2 linked regions of the Homo sapiens genome follow. The protein of the gene in region 1 purifies or fractionates together with the protein of each later gene. This does not show direct contact. Each region holds a gene or a part of one and is shown on either strand. Other genes may lie near its edges. The genes, in order: UROS and MOCS1.

Region 1 (11,121 bases):
CCTCCACAGTTACACTGATGAGCGGAGGCAGCGGGCAGAGTGGTTATGCAAGGGCTTTGGAGTGAGTTAGTCCTGGGTTTATGCAGCCATTTGGACATTAATGAGTTCCTTGACCTCTCATCATGGGATTACTACTAATAGTAATGGGATTATCTACTAACAGTAGACTATTAGTTAGGTAGAACTTACTGAATGCTCACTCTGTGCGAGACTCTGTCCTGAATACTTTTTCCTGTGAGATAGATGTGCTTAGTATTTTCACTTGGCAGATGAGGACCCTGGAGAACAAAGGGTATGGAACTTTCCAGGCCCCCACAATGTGTAAAGCACAAGTGCAGGATTCAAGCTGCAGAGTCTGAGTCCCAAAGGAAAGCATCCAGGACATTACCTGGAGCAGAGTGGGCATGGAGTAAGTGACAGTGGTGAGTTTTGGTTATTCTGTCTCCACATTTAACCAGGCTTCGCTGTAGCCTAAACATCCCACCTTCTTGGTGATTTCATACACACATTCACCTCTTGTTGAAAAGAAAGCGTGAGAACCTAAGAAACTCAGAGCCAGCCAGGCGCAGTGGCTCATGCCTGTAATCCCAGCACTTTGGGAGGCCAAGGTGGGCAGATCACTTGAGGTCAGGAGTTCCAGACCAGCCTGGCCAACATGGTGAAACCCCATCTCTACCAAAAAATACGAAAGTTAGCTGGGCGTGGTGGCACATGCCTGGAGTCCCAGCTACTCAGGAGGCTGAGGCACGAGAACCACTTGAACTCAGGAGGCAGAGGTTGTATGAGCCGCGATTGTGCCATTATACGCTAGATGGGGAAGCATGTGTACTCTTTCCCAGTGGTGCTCTGGGTGCTTTTTCTTGCAGTTGTATTTTTTCTTTTTGTGTATGTTTTGAGGATGAAGATAATGAAAAAGAGGAAAACCCTAGAAAGGTCACTATAACTCTTTCTGGTGCTTTATAATAAAGTTTAAAATGCATTTTCCCATGTATTTTCTTATTTTGATTCTCACAACAACCATAGGGAATAAGCAGTAGGAGTGTAGTTAATCCCAGTTACCTTGATGAAGAAACAGACGAGGTGCGTTAACTGACTTACCTGGGACACACACGTTAAGGGGCAGAGCTGGCTCTGTGGAAGGCTTTCTGACTCCACCCAGTGCTCACTCCAGTTGTTCTGCTGTGAGGCTTGGAAAGTAGTTTGTTTACATGCTATGGATAACTTTTGAATAAATACTATTGATATTTATGGGGTAGGAAGCAAAGTGGAACTCAATCTTTGGTTACCATTTCAAAGGGAATTTCCCTTAATGTAAAGGGTAGAGGAATGCTCTTGAATTTAAGGGAAAGTTATGTTCATAACCAGATTTTGGAAAGGAAGAACCATTATTTCCCTGTTTTCTAAAAATGTAATGAATGCCCAGTAGCTTTATGATATATTTATACAATCCATTTTCTCTTTGTGTTTCTTTAATCTATATTTAAAGATTTTGTTTGATCATAAAATGATAATATTCTGTATCAAATTGTGTTTGTTAATTGACCTGAAATTTATTATTTTTACTTTGGTGTAATGGATAAATGAACCCTCTCCTCTGAGATTACAGTTTGTTGACTGCTTTCAGATTTATGTCCCAAATAAACCAATTGGATTTCCTTGTTAGACATTTAAGTTGCTTTTTTTAAATGACCAGTGTCTTTTTCTTTAAAAGTCTAGATTTAAATTTTTGATTTCACTATGCAGATTAATTCTTCAAGTTATGTTGATTTCGTGGTTCCCATTAAAATTCTTCTAGTACCAACTGTGGAGATAGGCTAATATTTCAAGCAAGGAGTACTAAAACATTTATGAAAGCAATTTTTTAAAAATTGCCTATAAAACATGAACAAAGTGAAAATGGAATTTTAGTTTGAGATGCTGTTTTTTACATTTGGTTGCTAATAGTTTGCTTTGCTCACAGTTTCTTAGGGTGAACAAGCAGCCTTGGGCAACAGTCCAAATGGCCACTTTGGTATTTGCAATTCACATATCATTTCATGTTTTACAGTCTGGGAAAGGTCTCTGAAAGAAAAATGGAATGCCAAGTCAGTGTATGTGGTTGGAAATGCTACTGCTTCTCTAGGTAAGGAGTCAAGGTAAAAATAAAACAACAAAAAATGGCTTAGCCTTTTCAGTTTTAAAAAACAGTTTAACTCAGTTTAAAAATATTATTTTTTGCTTATTAAATTTGCAAAAATTAATTAAGTATACGATACTACTGATAAGAATGCAGTGAAACAAATATAATCAAACATTTCCAAATGGCATTAAAAATTGGTTTACATCTTTTGAGAACCACTTGGTCAGTATGTATGCAAAAGCTTTATTAAAATGTTTGTACCCTTTGGCTGACTAATTCCATTGTGAATGTACATAATGCCACTGAATTATGCACTTAGTGATTAAAATGACAAATTTTATGTTATATTTTTACTATAATTTTTTTAAAAGCCTAAATCTCCAGATAGTGATATCATAGTTGTTTTTTTTTGGTTTTCTTAATATTTTGTGCATTTTTCCAGTCTTGAGTCTATTTATTCTTCTTAAAGCATAAAATGTAAATAGTAATCATTAAAAATTAACATTGAGCATTTTAAATACTTAAAACAATGCTTAGCAATTGTCATAAATTAGCCTGTAACTTTGTTTCAGAACAGTTCAATTTGTCCAGTGAATTTGAAAATATTAGAGGAATGTATAATATGAGTGAAAATAGTTTAAGAATTAAAAGCACATTTTCCAGAGAACAAAATGAGGCTGGGGAAGAAACCAGTTGGGAGTTGCTAAGCTAATTAAAAGATGATTCCTAGATCTTCTGAGCAGCATGACTTTTACCACAAGCTCAGCAGATCAGCCAGGGAAAGGGAATTAGTGGCTTGGTTGCCAAGGAAACCATCTTCCCTCCCGCACATCTCTCTCCAAAAATAAGTTAAGAATTTGCTTGTTACTTTCTTTTATCATTTTTTCCTGAATGAGAAGAGGAAAGAAAATAGCCAGTTTCTTTCATTCTCTATATTTCCTACCAAAAACTCAACTATCAAATATACAGTATATTTATACATTTTCCAAACTTTCACACATTCACTGATAAGCAAACATTTTGAGCATCACATCCCCTTCAGTTTGATTTCGGTAGCATCACTATGCATTTTGCTGTCACTGTCCTGTCATATGAGAAGAAAATGAGAAAAAAGACTATGGTGATACAATGAATGATGAGCATCTATGTCTTGAGACTTAGAGTGGCTGAGAGTGGACCATATCAAGTGCAGCACAAGCAGCAGGGCCTTGGTCTCAGTTAGGCACTCACTGGACTCAGTCTGGTCCCTGTTTATTCAGTTGTGAAGGAAAAGGACATGTTCTAAATGCAGGGAACATATTATCAAAGGAGAGAGGAAATTAGAAGTGTTGTAACTTTTAAAAATGTCTTTGAAAGGAAACCACATTTTTCCTTGACATGAAAGTCAATCACCCAACTTTGAACATTCTATTTTAGCTCACCTTTTCAGATATAATAATGTACAAAGGAGCTCTTTTGAGTAGGTACAGGGACAAGGCATTGCTTGAACTCTCTGAGGTTTCTGTTCAACTAGAATCTCAGCAGGAGCCTGGAGAGTTATCAGAAGTTGAGCACCAACAGCTGGGAGGAGACCAGGCCCAATGTATTATCTTTGCTGCGTAACAAATTACCCCCAAATTACCCCAAAACTTACTAGCTAGAAACAGGCATTTATCATCTCAATGTTTCTGTGGGCCAGAATCTGGGCATGATTTAGTGGGCTTCTCTGTAACCAGGCCATGGTCAAGCTGGTGGTCAGGGCTACAGACATTTTGAGGCTTGACTTAGGGGAGGGTCTGCTTCCAAAATCACTCACATAGCTGTCAGTGGCCTCAGAAGATCTGCTTCCCAGCTCACTCACATGGGCCTCCCGAGAGGGCTACCTAAGACATGGCAGCTGGCGTCCCCTGTCGCAAGGCAATCCAAGAGAGAGCAAAAGAGAGCACCTACCACTGAAGCCACAGTCTTTTTATAACCTAATCTTGGAAGTGGCATCCATTTCTTCTGCCATTTCTTTTGGCTTGAATCAAGTAAGTCCAGCCCACACTCAAGCGGAGGGATGACACAGGGGCATGGATCACAGGGATCATTAGGAGCCACTTTCCACTGCCCACAAGCCCTCTAGTCAAGAGCCACCCCTGGCTCCCTAGAGCCTGGGAATCAGGTTAGGAAAGTTGGACATTTGAAGCAAAGAGAAGACAAGGTAGACATTTTTCTTGAAGTAGAAATGAAAACAAGGGTCCAGTGAATAGCAAGGGATTTCGGTGTGGAAGTCCAGTGAGAGAAGATGCCAGTATTTCTTTATAAATGTTGCACGCTGACATAATTTTACAGGTATTATTGATTAATAATAGATGGCAAAAAGTACATGCTGGCTGGGTGCAGTGGCTCACACCTGTAATCCTAACACTTTGGGAGGCAGAAGCAGGCAGATCACTTGAACTTAAGAGTTCAAGATCAGCCTGGGCAACATGGTGAAACCCTGTCTCTATTTATTTGAAAATAAATTTTTTTCAAAAGTACATGCTATGTAACATTATACAGAAAGTCCTCACTTAACATTGTTGATAGGTTCTTGGAAACTGCCACTTCAAGTGAAATGATATATAATGAAACAAATTTTTTTTTCCTTATCAATGTTGTAATGAAAACATGTTGAATGAAACGATGTTATTCAAGGACCTGCTGTATGTCGTTTCACTTACAGTGGCAATTTCCAAGAATCTATTGTTGACATTAAGTGAGGACTTACTGTACTTGGTCTACATAAAATCTCCTGAGAACATTATTTGGTTCAATAATATATGCATATTTTAATAACATTTTAATTTTTATTGAAAAAGCAAAGATGGTTGGCTTGTGGTTTGATACCTTGCAACTCAGCCAGCCATATCCTAGGAAAGCCTTCCATTTGGCTGCCCAAAGGTCAGGTGCCCCAACTTTCCCATCTGATTGCAAAGTTGGACCTGGGCGCCATTTAGTAGGCACTGTTGCTTGGCCTTGTAAACCCAGACCAGTGATGTCACAGAAGATAGCTTAGCAATTAACAACTTGGAATTCATAACACAGAAAGACTGTACCAGCCTGGGCAACATGGTGAAATCTCTTCTCTACCAGAAATAACAAAAATTAGCCAAACTTGGTAGTACATTCTTATAGTCCCTTTAACTGTGGCAGTCAGTGTCTTAACCTCTCAAATATAAAAAATACTCTCTGGCAGGTTTATTTAACACAGTTGGAGACAATTTGAAGTTTCACTGTCAGCTTTTACTTGGGCAGGGCCCTTAAGATGGGCTTACCCAGCCAGAGTGTTGGTTGAAATGTTGTACTGACTTGAAGCAGAGTCAGTCTTGCCACATGCAGGGACTGAGACCTTAGACCAAATATGCATTCCCCAAACATTTCTTGAGAGCCATCTGTGGACTGTGGGGTGGACCGGGTAGCCCCAGTCTCTGCCCTCACAAATAGAGCTGGCCACTGCTTAATAGCTTCCTTCCCTCTCAAGTACAGTAGTAATTGTTCTGTTCACAGGGTTGTGGTGTGAGGATCAAATGAGCAAGTGCTTACTTTGTGATCAGCAAAGCTATATATGAGAGTTAATGTTCTGGTTATGGTTATTATTGTTTCATTACTTGGGAAAAATGCATATTTATGTCAATATTGATTACCAGCGTCACTGCTAAGTTCTTATGTCTCAGTTCAGTTCCTGTGGGATTTTTACAGGTTTTTTTGTTTACTTTTGTTTTTGATGCGTTTAGCTCTTCTAAGCTCAGACAGGAGGTCCAGCCTCGGTTGCCACTGTAGCATAAGCAAGGGCTTAGTTCCTGAACTGAGTTACAGCTTTATTTTTCTTTTGATTCAGCATGTTTTTAATGATCCATAAGTTAAAAGCTGCTGGTGTTTTTATTAAAGCTGCCATTTGTTACTAACCAGGCTCTGTGTGACTCCTAAGTGGAAAGCCCACAGCACTTCCTTCCTCAGAGGCATTCCACATTCCTGTGAGCAGGTAGCAGTGTTGACTGAGCCAGTCCCTTAGGCCTCCCTTCATCAGCACGCTTTGTGGAGTGGCCAAGTGTTTGCTGTCTGGAAAAGTGCAGGGGGAGCCTGAGTCTGTTAGCTTCTTACTTGGTTCATGAATAGGGATCTCACAAAAGTGCTGGTATAGCCCCTCATCCTAAATGACTTGTATTTGTAGCGCTGTGGGTCCCTGTTAGCAGATTATTATGAAACCTTTCCTCCCCTTCCTTCCATTTTAGTCTGGCCATGTCAAGCCATAACACCTTTCTGGATGTGGTCTGGCCACATCCTCCCAAAAAAATGAAGGCTCTGTAATGCCGATTCCTGCAAAAAGTACCAAATGCCCATCATCTCCTTCCTGACTGAAGAGAAAACAGCCTTTGTTGAGCACCTTCTAGATGGCAAGCACTTTGCTCTTATTATCTGACACGATCCTTAAAACAGTTCCATGTGGTTGGTTTTTCCCCCTCTTGTAGATGAGCTATGTGGGGCTCAGGGAAGCTAGTTAAGGCCTTACTTACCCAGCCTACACAACTGGGGTGCAGGTACCAGGACCTGATGCTTTCTCTTCTGAACAGACACTTGTGATCTTCCCTCAGTAGCTTTCAAGAAAAGACATCCTCTATGTGATTTGTAAACTGCATACCTGTGTATTTGCACGTTAAAAAATAACGCTGGAACAAAAGGACTTCAATAACCGTGTTAAGAAATACATTTCTTTGTGGTTTTCCAGTGAGTAAAATTGGCCTGGATACAGAAGGAGAAACCTGTGGAAATGCAGAAAAGCTTGCAGAATATATTTGTTCCAGTAAGTAGAAAAACATCACTCCAAATGAAGCCATTTATTTTTTGTTGACCTCACAACCACTACCTAGGGAAAAGAATATTTCCTCAGTGCATTCTTGGTGGTGAGATTGATTGGTGAGCATCGTATAACCCACTCTGGGAGCATAGCCTATTTGTATTTGTGTATGTCTATACTTTGTGAGGTTTAGCCCACTTCCTTCTACCCCCTGTACCAAAGAACTTGACTTGAACATAACACAAAATAAAACATTTGGGAGATAAAAACAGTGGAGAGATCACTTGAGGGATTCCAAAGAGAGCAGAGGCAGGAGGTGTGAGTGGGTACTCTCCCCTTACTGAGGACTGTCCTTTCCCTTCTCAGGAGCTACTTCTGTCTCTGAATTCCCTCTCCCAGCTTGCTCCCAGGTAAAGAACTGACTCATGATTGGGCTGCCTGTGGACTTGGATTTAAAGTGGCACTTGTTCTAGGGGTGTTAGCATTTAAATGGGGACTTAGTCTTAAACTAATTATGGAATTGTAGGCTTCAGAAGATACATAGGCAAAAATTCTTGGAGCAAGAGGGATGGGAAGGCTGACCGTCTACTTGTAGGGCAGCCCCACCTCTAAGGTGCATCTCCCTTCCTCTCTGTTCCCTGAATGTCCAGTACAACCGCAAGCTCTTACACCCTTGTCATTTGACTCCTCTGCTGTAGGTGTAAGATCATACACCCCCATGAGAGCATGAAGTAGAACTATCTTATCTTAGATTGCTGAAGAGGAGGAAATCCAGGCTTTCCTAGAGATCATGAGCTGGCAAACTTCATCTGTTAAGGATATTTTGGGCTTTGCAGGCAAATGGTCTGTCAGAACTACTAATCTCTGCAACAGAAGCATGAGAGCAGCCATAGGAAATAAACAAACAATGGGCTTGGCTTTGACCCCAGGCTAGAGTTTTCTGACCCCTTTCTAAAATTGCTTGAGTGTCTGCTGAGCTGGGAGGCCAGGGTCAGATGAACTGCTGACAGCTGAGAGTTTCCTCTAAGGTGGTCCCAGGAGAGGGGTATATGCCTTGGCCCTTGGGTGGTGAGATCAGGATGAGTGGTATAGGGAGAGAGTATACCTTAAATAGGTCTCTTTATGGCTTCTGAAACAGTGATAGATGGTTTTGTTTCTGGTAAAACAAAGTATTTATGTTATTTAAAAAAAATACTCCTAAAGGTGATGTTGGCCTTTCTTGACGTGCAAACTTGTACACTAACGTCTTATAAGGCATTACTTACAAGTCTTCCTGCCGTAAGTCATTGCTGTTGCCTGAAGGTTCTCTAGCTTATATTTTTCTTTGTGTTACTGGGAGCTTGTTCTAGAGAAAGTCCTGCGTCTTTTTCTACACTGTGGTCTGAGGATCCCTGGAGCTTAATTAGGCCCCTGACAGAGTCGTCTGGGTTGGGGGCGGCAGTGAGCAGTCAGGGAACAGCAGAGATACTGCTGGGCTCAGTGGATCCTTTCCAAGTTCTCCAATTCTCCTTTTTTCTCTTTTCTAATTTCTTTTAAAAATAACTTCGTTGTACCTTTCCTGAGTCACTACATGCTCGGTGTTAACGTTGAAGACTAGCATTTACTGAGTGCCCAGCGTGTCTCGGGTACATAGACACGTGGCCTGTATGATGTCATTTAATCTTCACCATCACCCCATGAAGTCAGAATCGTGTCCACTGCAAGCTGTGCTGGCCAGTACAGTAGCCACTAGCCACATACGGCTATTTAAATGTAAATGTAAATTAATTGAAATTAAATACAATTGAAAATTTAGTTCTTCAGTCACACTGGGCACATTTCACAAGCTCACTTGTCACTGTGGCCAGTGGCACCAAATTGGACCACACAGAACATTCCCATCATCACCAAAAGTTCTTTCTGACTGTGCTGCTATAGAGACTCTTGGGGGTCCAAGGCCCAGATCTTGTCCAAGGTCACAAGCTATGAAGTGGCAGGCTGGAATTCACACTCAGCACAGCAAGGCCACTGCTCATCCCATGGCCTGTCACATTCAGAGGCCTGACTGGCATCTGCTCCATGCCGACCTGCTCTCAAGGAGATGCTGGCCAAGCACCTCCATCCACTCTGATTTACAGTGACTGGGGCTCCTGCAGGGATGAAGACGTAAGTGTGCTTGACTCTGTGTTTGAATCTGGTGGGCAGAGGCTTAAGGAGCCTCCGGTTTAGAGGAACTACACGGGCCTTTTCTGGCCACTCAGATGAATAAGCTGTAGTCCCAGAGTGTTTCGGCCACTTGGCAATCCTGAGCCTGTGCACTCCTTAGTTCAGTGGATGTGCGTTCATCGGCTCGGACATGGCTTTCAGGTATTAATGCATTGACTGACGCCTCTCTTGCCCCACCCCCCATATTGCTTCCCACATCACAGGAGAACAAGTCAGTTCAATATGGTTCGGCAGATGTTTACCCAGGAGCACCTGTGTGCCAGGCCCTTTGCAGGGCGTTGGGACTGAAGAGGAGTTTAACTCCATTCCTGTCTTCTGGAAGTTCCCAGCCTAGCTGGGGCTGGAGGTGGGGTAGGGTGGGGAACATATACATCAGTAACCGTGATAAGGCAGGGTGGATTAAGTGACCAGAAGAGGTATGAACAGTTTTTGTATGGTGGGCCTGCTATTAAGATACCTGTTTCTACCTGTAAAACACTCAGGATACCAAATAGGTGGGGTTTTTCCTCATATCAATGACCAATTCTCCAATGCTCCAGATAACAGCTGGGTGTCCTACAACTTAATTTTGACATTACCCAGAATTAACCCAGACCCCACAGCTTTAAGGGCTCAGTCTTAGCAAACTGTCCCCCACTTTAGATACAAGTATTGGATGCTGAGGGACCTCTGTCCAAGTTGGCTACAAGTCAGGAGTTCTCACGACTCCCTACTCAGGTTCAGTAATTTGCTAGAATGGCTCACAGAACTCAGGGAAACACTTATGTGTACTGATTTTTATAAAGGAGATAACAAGGACACAGATAAACAGCCAGATGAAGAGGTCTGGAAGGGTCCTGAGTACACAGGAGCTTCTTCCCCCATGGAGTTGGGGTGCGCCACCCTCCTGGCACATGGATGTGTTCACCAACCCAGAAGCTCTATAAACTCATAGTTGAGGGGTTTTATGGAGGTTCCATTATGTAGGCACCATTGATTAAATCATTGACCCCTGGTGACTAGCTCCATCTCCAACCCTTTGATCACATGGTTGTGATCCTCTGTGTGGCCTTCAGCCCCCATCCTGAAGCTTTCTAGGGGCCACCACCAGTCACCTCATTAGCATAAACTCCAGTATGGTTAAAAGGGGTTTATCATGAATAACAAAAGATGCTCCTCTCACCTCTAATGGGAAGTTCCAAGAGTTTCAGAAGCTCTGTGCCTGGAACAGGGAGGAAAACGAAATATTTCCTCTTGTATCACAGTGTCATGTCAGGGTGTCCAAAAGAAGGCAGAGGTCTTCAGGAAAGTCTGTACAAAAGGCATGGCCTCCTCTCCACAGAGAAGGGCAGGCCCTCCCTCAGGCAGTAGCCATGGCCAAGCCCTCCCACTCAGAGGGAGCCACTGAGCAGAGACGTGGAAGGAGAGGGTTTTCCTGGAGAGTACAGCATGGCAGGGGCAGTGGGTGGCAAGCTGGGGAGCACTGAGTAGCCTCTGAGAGTTGACCGGAGCCCTGAGGCACGGGGCCTTACATCAGCCCCTGCGGGTCAGACTCAGGCTGGATTGGTCCTCCCCAGGCCTAGACGGGAACACAACACTGCCTGCTCCCTCTTAGCGGGCATCACTAGGTACAGCCAGGATTGGGCCCAAAAGGCAGTCACTGGATTAGGACCCAGTTCTCTTGTTCCTGGGACTTTTTAGGAGTGTCTCTGAAATTTATCCCTTAAGTAAAAAGAGCATTCTTTAAAACCTACAGAGCCATCGCAGTCTAAGAGCAGGGCCTGGGGTGCTGTGGCAGGTCTTGCCTTGAAGGAGCCGTCTTCCCACAGCTCAGTGTGCTCCAGGGCTTGCTGGCAGGCAGCTTCCACGGGGTCCTGGAGGCTCTGGGGGCATAACAGAAATGCTATCAGGGAGTTTGAGGGCCCGTTATGAGTCTGACATACATTGGCATTTTGTGCATGCCTTTAATTGTCTGACATATTGTGGTACTGAGCTGTGACATGGGAACGATTACTAGACC
Region 2 (10,914 bases), on another chromosome or scaffold:
GCTGCTGCCAGATACATCAAAGCAGGGAGGAAGTAGGGGAGAAATGCCTGAAGATTGTTCTTTCCCTTTACCCATTGATCTCCCAGGCAGGAGCCAGCTGGGGGGCGGGAGGGGAGGGTGGTACCAGGTGAAGTCCACAGGAGGAACCTCTTTGTTGCAGAGAAGGGAACCTGGAGGCTGGTTGGGGAGCGAGGCATGAGGAATAACAGGCACGCTGAAGCAGTTAGACCTATCCTAGATTTCACTGGTATCTTCTCCAGTGGTCTCTGCCTGCAGAAGCTTCTCAGACATTCTTCTTTCTCTGTGGCCACAGTGCCTTGTGCAGAGCTGGCACAGAGTAGATGCTTCATAAGTTTTGGTGGAAGGATGGTAGGTATATTGATTTCTGGGGCTGTCTCATCCATCCCTCTTACAGAAGCTGAGAAGCATTGAGTGAAGTTTGACCTTAAGTTGTCATGCCCAGCAGCCCTCAGCTGAAGCTTCCAAGCAGTGATCACAGACTCAAATAGGTACAGGGCAGTCAGGTGATGTCCACAAGGGACTTGGAGGGGCTGAGGTGAAATGGGATGTGTGTGCCACAACAGGGGTAGGAGACTTCCAGGACACACACAGCTCCAACTGGTTGGGGGCCATTCTCATGGTGATAAAGTGGCCATTCCAGCAAGTGTCTCAGAAGGTAGAGATCTGGATTTTTACATGCTATCTCTGTTGGCATCTACTTAGTTTTTTAAAAATACACTGAGGGAAGTATGACTGTAACTCACATATAGGTATTGGGAAGTCGAATTTTGCCTCTTGCTCTTCTAGCCTCTCTGACCTCCCTACAGCACCTCTGTCTCTCACTGCTAGGGGCCCTGCCATGGGAGGCCTGGGCCCTGGTGCTCCTCCCGGAGGGAGAACCAGGGAAGGAGTTAGCTCCTCAGAGGCCAGGAGGCCAAGGCTCAGGGGTAAGGAAGGCATATTGTCCTCACCCACATGTAGGTCTGCCTCTTTGGAAACTCTGAGGTATCCCTGCGGGATCACCTGCGAGCTGGGGCCTCTGAGCAGGAGCTGCTGAGAATCATTGGGGCTGCTGTGGGCAGGAAGAAGCGGCAGCATGCAGGTAAGTGCAGGGTGGGGAGGGCTGGCCTGGATGGTGAGTGGGCCTTGTCCCTGGGAGGGAGGTGTGGAGTTGTGGGGTGAGATGACCAAGGAACACCTAGGGGGAAGCTGGCGAGAGTCAGCATCATCCCCACTACCACTCACTGCTGTTGGCCCTCTGGACTCAGGGTACAGTGATGCTTCTCCTTCCATGGGGAAAAGTCATAGCAGAGGCTGCACAGGAGAGGGGACCCCAGATTCTCTTGGGCTGTTTTACTAGGTGGGGAGAAGGGGGTGTCATTGCTTCTTTCTCATCCCACACGTGGCCTTCTGTTTAGGGAGGGCAGGGTCCTGATGTCCACAGACTGTTCTTTGGGCTCAGCCTTGAGCGACCTCGCAGTGCACATGTGGGGGCCTTTTGTCATACAGCTGAGTGCATGTGCTCGGGGCTGTCAAGCGCGTTTGTTTCAGTGAACTCTCCTCTCCCCGCCCTGTCCCTCTCCCGCTCCCCTGCTTTCCTCTCCCTCTCCCCTTCCCCTGCTTTCCTCTCCCTCTCCCCCTCCCCCTCCCCTGCTTTCCTCTCCCTCTCCCCCTCCCCCTCCCCTGCTTTCCTCTCCCTCTCCCCTCCCCCTCCCCTGCTTTCCTCTCCCTCTCCCCTTCCCCTGCTTTCCTCTCCCTCTCCCCCTCCCCTGCTTTCCTCTCCCTCTCCCCCTCCCCTGCTTTCCTCTCCCTCCCCATCTTTCCCTCACCCCAGGCATGTTCAGTATTTCCCAGATGAAGAACCGGCCCATGATCCTCATCGGTGGGTGACCCATCAGTACGTAACCACTCACCCTTGTCATTTGGGGATCTCGTGGGGTGGGAGCCGTGCCATAGGCACCCCCAGCTCCTGCATTTCATGCTGATTTCTCATCCTTGTTTTTCTTCTATTCCTCCTTCATCTCTTCTTAACCTTCAAGGTTTTACTGTTTCTTCCCCCACTGTTCATGATCCCCCTTACTATACCTGCCACAGAAATGATCCTTCTGTCTCACCAGACATCAGAGCAGGGGGATGGTCTGCCAGATTTAATGATCACTAAGTTAGTGGCTCCCTGAGAATTGAAATCCTGGTTAAAACAGAGGCCTTTTCCTCGGCTCTAAAATCTCCCATTTGGATAATGTGACAGGTGTCCTCTGTAGTACCCAATGATCCATGCACGGTGTATCTGGACCATGAGCCCCCACGGGTGGATGTGTGGCCAGACGTCTGTGCTGGGCAGATCTTGAGGCAGCAAGTTAATAATGTTACTCACATGTAACATGAGGTAATGATGGCCAAGACCTCAACTTCCCAATTCCTTAACTCTCAGGAACATCTGCATAGGATGTATCATCGTGTGTGTAGGATGCTTCAAACAAAAGCCCCCTGGTTTTAAGTCCTTATGTGGTCTCCTACCCCTGGGGGCTGGGCTGGTCACTGAGGAGCTGTAGGGTGGCTGTTGCCCCTCTGTCACGGTGCCCAGATTATAGCAGGTGAGGCCTTGACCCTTTGCTCGCAGTCAGTTCTGAGCCCCCTGAACTGTGCCACTAGGAAAGAAAAAGCAGGGGGGAGAAAAGATGAGAGGAAAGATCCTTTCTTTAGAGGTTAGAGCAGAGGGAACTCAGTGGCCCAGAGGGGAAGGCAGGCTAGAGACAGCCCAAGGACCATCTTTGCCCACTGGCTGCCCGGGAAAGCAAAGGTAGCTTGCCACTGGGAAGAAGACTCTCATCTCCTCTCCTCCCACCCCCAGCATCCAAGTCCTCTTGTTGGGCCCTGACCCATGCTGAGGCACCTTCATGGCCTTGATGGCATCTCCCCAGAAGGGAGGCTGCCCCTCTGACATTGACATGTCTGGGGCTTAGAGTATGATGCGAAGTGGGAAGCTGGGGGAGCATTTGCCTCATACTTTCAGAGATATTGAGTAACCAGTCTGCTTTCTATACAACCAAGAGTTGCCTAGGACAGGGCCTCTCAGAATTTCATGTGCATGTGAATCACTGGGGATTTTGTCCTTTTGGATTGACTTGGAAGGTCTGGGGTGGGATTCTGCATCTCTTGTGAGTTCTCAGGTGGTGCTGGTGCTGCTGGTGCTGCTGGTCCATAAGCCAACCACCCTTTGAGTAACAAGAGCCTGCACCATTCCCTAGGCCCTCTGCACCATCTGAATTAGCCCGTCAGTTTGTATGTGCTTCTCATGTGCTTCAGGGGACTTGAAAAACATTTAAGTAGATCACAAATTCCCCTTATTATCTTGTCTGTAAACTAAGTGGTTATATTAACTCTTCATGGAGAATGTGAAGATAAAAATAGGTGTAATTGGTAATTTAGAGTGAGACCTAGCTCTAGTTTTAAGAAAATGAAGGGACATTCAGAGGTCATGTGATCCAGGCCTCAACTTGGTGCTGCTTGAGAGAACTTGGGAATTGAGAAGGTTTTCATGTGGAGGGAACCCTGTGCCACGGTGGCACAGCAGTTTCTAGGAGGGCTGTTACCCTGTACATCACTGGGTGAGAAGGGCTGTGAACTTGGACTCTGGGTGCCATCTATCTGTGGATCTTCTACTTTGTCTTGTCCCACTATGCTTTTTGTTCTTCATTCCTCTTTCCCCGGTATGAAAGAGAACTTGAGGTGGGATAGGGAGAGGGTTGGGGAGTAGAGGTGGGAAAAAGAATTGCCTTTTGGACTTAGTGTTTCTTCTCTTTTCTTCTTGCCTTGCAGAGTTATTTTTGATGTTCCCCAATTCCCCACCAGCCAATCCAAGCATTTTCTCCTGGGACCCGCTCCATGTTCAGGGTCTAAGACCCAGAATGAGTTTCTCCAGCCAGGTGGCCACTTTATGGAAAGGATGCAGGGTCCCCCAGACCCCTCCTCTAGCCCAGCAGCGGCTGGGGTCTGGCTCCTTTCAGAGACACTACACTTCCCGTGCAGACTCAGATGCCAACTCAAAGTGCCTTAGCCCAGGTTCCTGGGCTTCTGCTGCCCCCTCAGGACCCCAGCTAACCTCAGAACAACTAACTCATGTGGACTCGGAAGGACGGGCAGCTATGGTAGATGTGGGCAGGAAGCCAGACACAGAGCGGGTGGCTGTGGCTTCAGCCGTGGTCCTCCTGGGACCGGTAGCCTTCAAGCTTGTCCAGCAGAACCAGCTCAAGAAAGGAGATGCCCTAGTGGTGGCCCAGCTGGCTGGAGTCCAGGCAGCCAAGGTGACCAGCCAGCTGATCCCTCTGTGCCACCACGTGGCCCTGAGCCACATCCAGGTGCAGCTGGAGCTGGACAGCACACGCCATGCCGTGAAGATCCAGGCATCTTGCCGGGCTCGGGGCCCCACCGGGGTGGAGATGGAGGCCCTGACCTCTGCTGCAGTGGCCGCCCTCACCCTGTATGACATGTGCAAGGCTGTCAGCAGGGACATCGTGTTGGAGGAGATCAAGCTCATTAGCAAGACTGGTGGTCAGCGGGGGGACTTCCATCGGGCTTAGCACCTGCCCTTCTCACCCATGGCCCACCCAGGCCTGGAGCTGGGATGCAATGTAGGCTGAGGGAAAGACGTCAGGTTCCTTTAATCACAGTCACTGTTTGTTTACCTTGAGCAGTAAACCCGAAGTCAGCCTGCTCTACTACTAACAAACAGGCCTGCTGCTAGATGATCTCTAATGACCAATGGGGCTTCCTTTCTATAGGGAGGATACCAGCAGGCCCTTAAGCCTTCCAGGACACTAAGGTCGTGGGAGCGGGACTGCAACAAGCAATGCCAGATAACTGAGAAATCATGTTCTTTGTGGACTATTTCAGACAACCAGGTTCCGACAGTCCAGCCCAGAACTTTTCCTTCTCATTTTGGGTTTTCTCTTCTCCTGCTTTCCTGGGGAGAGATTAAGCGCTCATTAAGCAGAGGAGCCCACTTTGAGGAGAGCAAAGCACAAGCTTGCCTGAAGAATGGATCCCAACTTCTCCCCGGCAGCTCTGCCTCCCTAAGTCTGTGAAGCCGCAGCCCTGCCCTGTCCTGTCCTGTCCTGACTTCATCTCTCCTTCTGCCCAAGTCTGTGTCCCATCAGACTTGCAGCCTTTCAGCTTAACAGTTGCCCGGTCCTGCTGGCCCCTTTTCCTCTGGCCCCCCTCTTCTGAAACAGGATGTGCACACATGGGCCATAGCCCTAAGGACTCCTGCCAGACCACACAGCCCACACCTGGCCCTGTTCACGGCTGTTCCACCCACCCCTCTTTATTCTGGAGCATATCAGGGAAAGAAAAGTTGATGATAGATTGCCTTCACCCTCACAGCGCACAAATAAAGCTACGATGCCAACTTTGCAGATGCAAGAATGAAGACACTGTGTGGGTAGGGCACTGAGCTGCTGCAGTTTCACAGGGAAGGCTGCACCTATCAATCAATCAATCAATCCTATCCCAAGACACAGTTCCCTGAGGGAAGAAGAGGAGGGACCTGGAAAGGCCTAAGGGTGTACTCTCTGTATAGCCCCGCTATGGGAAAATAAAGTGGAGTAGGGGGCATAGAAATGCACCATCTAAGGGAAATCTTTTGTCAGGTGGTGGCCAGGGGTGTTCAAAGCTCATTGCTTGCATTACCAGCTATTAGAGAGATCAGAGAGGGCAATTAATTAGAGGCTCCTGGTTCTCACATCCCAAACACACACAGTTCTGGCCTGCTGGGCTCTCTAACTTGGATGTCTTTGAGTCCTCAGTGGTGCCCCCTGCCTGCCTCCCCTCTGCCCTATGCCAAGGTGTGCTGGCAAATATTAAACAACCAGCTCTCTGGAAAAGACAATTTGTGATATAAATACTCCCATGTTGAATAATTTCAAGCTACCAGTATGTCAAATGGCTTGCAAAATTTCTGAAAATGTAAACAATTGGTTCTCACAGAGCTGGTACAAGCTGGCTCCAGCACACTCTCAGCCCACCCCAGATCCCCTCATAGGAAGAAGGCACAAGTTTAAAGGCAGACTGGGTAGGGATGGTATGAATTTAATATTTTTTAGTATTACAATATATTCTTATAAAAAAGGTGCAAGTGAAAAAGGACACTGTAGATTATGTCCATTAGCCTCATTTGTCATCTGAGGCAGCTGGTGAGAACAGCCTTGGCGTGAAGGCATCCCTGGTAGAAGTCGGGGGAGATAGATAGTCACAGTTCCCCAGTTGGTGGAAATGGGATGGGAGTAGGGAGAGGCTGGAACAGACCCTTCCCCATTCACCTGGAGAATTTTCTCCTCCCACTGCCCTAAACACTTTATTTCCATCACAGGGGAGAAATGCTGCTGAGAAGGTTGTGTTTGTTAGGTTGATGACGAATTTTACATTGGCCACAAAATTAGCTAGAGAAACTTATCTAAAGGTGGCAGGAGCAGTGGGGAGGGCATGAAGAAAGCAAGACCAAGAAACAACCTATTAAGGACCAGCTCAGCCACCCCGACTGGGCACCAGCCCCTTCTTACTCAGTTGAGTATGAGTCCATGGTCCAAGGCACTGTTGGAGATCTGGCTACAGTGGCATCTAGCACCAGAGCCACTGGCCAGATGTAGAAAATAAATAGAAAAATATCTTTCTTTTAGAGTGAGAAGGCTGAGCTCTGGAACAACGTATTTGTGTCCTCTGTCAACAGTTGAACCAAATTCTGCTTTTCTGAAGATCAAATGTATCTTGAACAGCTTCCATAGTCCTTTTGTTTCCAGGTGCGTATCCAGTCTTCCATGGTGGGTGGGAATGCCAGACACGCTTGTGGAGCCCTCCCCTGTTCCCTGCCCCTGAGGGGGTTAGGTTGACATCAGCCTGGTCAGTTTGGGAGAGGACCTTTAGAGGCCTCACCCACAACCTCCCATCTTCCCCAACACTTGTCTTGCAGTGGGAGCTCTTGGGGCTGCAGATGCATATAGCCAAACTCTCTGCAGCTGTTCTGCCTGGAAGCCTTCATCTTGCCCTCACCTGGGTTCCAGGATGGCCTCTTCACACCTGTGTCAGCCAGGCTTGCACTTGCTCAGATCCCTCCCACCAGAACACACACACACCGCCCGCCCCCTCAAACCAACGCACATGCTGGGCTCACCGACCCTGTGTTTCTTCCCCCCCGCAGCTACTACGGTCCCAGCCCCAGGAGTTGGATGCAAGTGAAAGGCAGAAGATAGGCAGCTGAGAGTAGGCCCAGCTCACCAGTCTCCACTGGCAATAACCCTGAGCCAGGGATTAGGTTGGAAAGTGAGAAACACAGGGAAGGGCAGAAGGGCCAAGAGCTCATTGATGGTAGAGGTTAGGCAGGGCCAGTCTCAAAGAAGATGAAAGGCCAACTCGGAACGTGGTATTGAATAAGAGCCTTGATGGAGTTTTAGAAAAATTTTGTCTAGATACAGCCATCCCATCCACCAAGGCCAGCATGAGATGGACAAAATGGAAGGTGGCAGTGGATGGGAGGACCAGAAGGAACCCCTTGCAAGTTGGGCTGAAGAACCAAATTGGGTACCAGAAATGGGGTGGCCCCCCTCTCAGCCTTCCTCCTTGGCACCTTCAGGTGATGTGCTCCCCAGAGGATATCAGCCTTCCTCCTCCATCCCCATCTCCCCAGTTTCCCTTGCCTGCTCTGCTGTTCGCACCATCTGAACGCCTGAGAGGAGGGGCCACCCTTAGAGACAGCATGTTAATGTAGAGGGCAGCTCTGGCCCTCAGACCTCTCAGGAACCAACTCCCCAACGCCAGTGGACACATGGTTCCAAGTGGCCACCTGCAGGCTGGACAGAGGCTGCTGTGGCTTCTGCCTTGAAGCTAGTGTTAGAGAAGGGGTGGGAGGGCCTGAGCAATTTATATGAAGTAGAGAACTATGGGATGGAGCTAAGCATTCAAGTGCTGCCCTCTGCTGAGGGGCTGTAGGGGACTCCAAGGCAACATTTGAGGTCACTGTCTGGCTTCACAACAATGGCCAGGTGTCCAGGAGATGGGGACATGGGAGATGCCCAAAAGGCATGAGGTGTGGTGATGCATGAGGTCTGTCTTGAGCCCCTCGCCAGATTCATCAAGCACCTGGTAGTGAGCCATAGCTGTGGAAACCCAAGGTGAGTCTTCTAGGACTGTGGATTAGTAGACAGGATGGAGGTGAGGGTAGAGAAGGAAGGGAAAGATACTTAAGACATGCAGGGAGAGGCCAGAGGACTTGTGACATGGGAAACAGACACTGCTACTCTGTCCTGATGGCTTTGGTCCCTGCATCATCCTTCCAACATTGACTGTTCTCTGGAACCTACCAGAGCTGATCTAACTAGAATATATAATGCCTCCTCTGTTCCCATTCAAGAGGAAAGTTTGCCCCCAGGTCAATGTTCTGTTGAGCCTCCCCTTGAGAGAAGGGAGTCTGGATTCCCTCACCAGATTCCCTCTCAGGGGCTCCCTCCATCATTGCTCCCCGTGCTACACAGGAACTCTGGACAAGGCTGTGGACCTCTCCAGTCTAGATCTGGAACTGTTCTGTGCCAGCACATGGGTGCCCATGGTAGGGGATGGGGAGCAGGGCCCCTTCAGCCTGGGGTTACCTGGCCTGAGGCCATCCAAGGCAGCCTCAGAATAATACCTGGGGCCAGGGCACAGAAGGAATCATGTGAAGGGGAGATAAGAGGAGCCCCTTAAGGTAAGCGTGGGGAGACACCTGGTCCAGCCACACACAGCCCCCCATCCCAGGACCCAGCCCAAGGCTCTAAACCAAGCACCAAATGGTTTAAATATCACCACCTCCTCCACTCAGCCCCATTCTCACCAGTCCCTGTCTCCCGGCCTCCTGTGTGGCTAGTTCCCCAGGTCAATAATTTAGCCGGTTTATTGCCCGCTCCCGGGTAACTTCCAGGGCCTGGCTCCCTGATCGCTTGCGGCTGCGCTTGAGCTTGCATAAGTCCTTGTCGAAGACCTCCCCAGAGCGCAGGGCCGACACCAGGTCATCGAACTCTCCTCCCTCCTCCAGCGAGCTGCCTGCAGCCAGGACCTTCCGCTGCCGCTGCCACCGCTCACGTTCCCTCTGCTCCTTCAGCTGCGGGCGGGGGGCCAAAGATAGGAACCCTCTCAGGGAGAGGCGCTGAGGCCAGGGCAGCCCCCCAACCCTGGGCTAACTCCTAGGCCATGGTCATGCTGCCTGCCTGTATCTGTTGGCCCCACTTTCTTCCTGCCTAGGACATACAGGCCCCCAGCTTCACACCACTCTCTTCCCTCAGGCTGGGAAGAAGTTTCTCTCTCCTGGGGCTGACATCCAACCCCTATGGTGTTCCTCAGTTCCTCAGTCTCTGCCCTCCTCCCACACACCCCAGTTTGGGGGTGTTCTCCCCAAGTAGCACCCGTCTCCCCTCAGTCCCAGGCCTGGCACTGCCCCTCACCATGGCTTCCATGCGCGCCCGCCGCTCCTCCTCCTCCTTCCTCCTCCTCATGGCCTCTAGATCCTGCCGGGCCTCTGAGAAGGCCTGCAAGAAGGTATCAAAGATGCCAAAGAATTCGTCTGGCTGCATCTTGCTGTCATGCTCCCCGAAGTGCATCAAGGCCTTGGCGAACTGTCAAGGGACAGAACAGGATTGGTGGAGAGTGCCCTGGAGCATGCTGGGCTCAGCCCCTGAGGTTAGCTGGGTTCTAGCCAGAGCAGAGCCCAGCGCAAGGCTGGGGACTGTTGGCACAGGGGGCAGGGCTGGAAGAGGTGAGAAGACACCCCCATCATCATCAGGATCAGAGACAAGGCTAAGGAGAGGCAGGTAAAGAGTTGGGCTCACTCAGTCCACCTTAGAGCCACCCCTGGGCCTGTAAGGGGTAGGCATGAGGTCAGGGGTATAGACCTTGGGAAGCCCTTCCTGAGGTCAGGAAGAGGCTGGCAGAACTCAGAACTTCAAAGATCCTCTAGTTATGTTAATAACCCCTCTGTGCCTCAGCTTCCTCCACTGTCAAATGGGAATAATAGAATCTACATCATAGTGGTGTTGGGGGGTTAGATGAGTTGGTGGCTATAAAACAGTGGCTATATTTATATAGGCCAGGCACTGTTCTGAGTTACTGAGAGCTACCATTGTTAATTCAACTCACTCAGTATCCTCTAAGAAAGATCTCACTACTCAAAAGTGTGCTTCATGGACTAGCAGCAGATTCACCTCCTGTTAGAAATGCAGAATCTCAGACCCCAGGCCTCCTAAATGAGAATCCATGTTTTAATAAGACCCCCATACATGAGGTCTATGGACACGTTAGTGTGAGAAGCAGATAGAGGCATGGTAATCATGTCCACTGCTGAGCTGTGGTGTCAGATTCTAACCCAGTTCTATAACTTACAGCTGGGCAATCTTGGGCAAGTTACTTAGCATCTCTGATTTTAGCGTTCATATCTGTCAAGTGGGAAATAACCTTTCAACAAACCCATAAGGTAGGTGGTGACAAATCATTAAAACACTTAACATGGTGCCTGATATCTGATAAATGGACCATGATCTTTGCGGTATGTGGTTATCATTGCTTGTCTTGTTAAGAGCGAAGAAACGGTTTTCTCTCAAAGCTCTGTAACTCTGGGTTTGTCCCTCCTGGGCTGTCTGTGGTAGGAATGGGTGAAGGAGCTTGTTTAGATAAGGCTGGGTTGGCAAGCAGTGGGGGTTGGGGCACCCTTACCTTGTCCCTGGCCTCATTTAGCTGGTCCTCCAGCTCGGAGAAGCTGAAGCTGGACACCGTGATGAAGTCGCTCATGACAGGGACAAACTTGTCACTGGGCTCCCGTACCTGGCGCCTCTGATACTCCAGCTCCTGAGGAGGGAGGGTGAAGTGCTGCTTAGACTGGTGCCAAGATGAGAGTCGGGT

The links.
Region 2: the proteins of UROS (region 1) and MOCS1 purify together in Homo sapiens (affinity purification with mass spectrometry; 3 studies listed by BioGRID and IntAct, with this or other methods). This does not show direct contact.

Annotation. Positions count from the first base shown.
Region 1 is NC_000010.11:125,803,215-125,814,335, reverse strand, and holds part of UROS (uroporphyrinogen-III synthase), read left to right. Parts: intron 1-2,047; coding exon 2,048-2,122; intron 2,123-6,848; coding exon 6,849-6,923; intron 6,924-11,121.
Region 2 is NC_000006.12:39,900,023-39,910,936, reverse strand, and holds the end of MOCS1 (molybdenum cofactor biosynthesis protein 1), read left to right. Parts: intron 1-981; coding exon 982-1,102; intron 1,103-1,834; coding exon 1,835-1,882; coding exon of another isoform or gene 1,883-1,890; exon of another isoform or gene 1,891-1,897; intron 1,898-3,819; coding exon 3,820-4,580; 3' UTR 4,581-6,767; downstream 6,768-10,914. Other genes in the region: DAAM2 (disheveled-associated activator of morphogenesis 2), read right to left, coding at 8,900-9,124, 9,465-9,635, 10,729-10,860. UniProt on the Homo sapiens protein: Isoform MOCS1A and isoform MOCS1B probably form a complex that catalyzes the conversion of 5'-GTP to cyclic pyranopterin monophosphate (cPMP).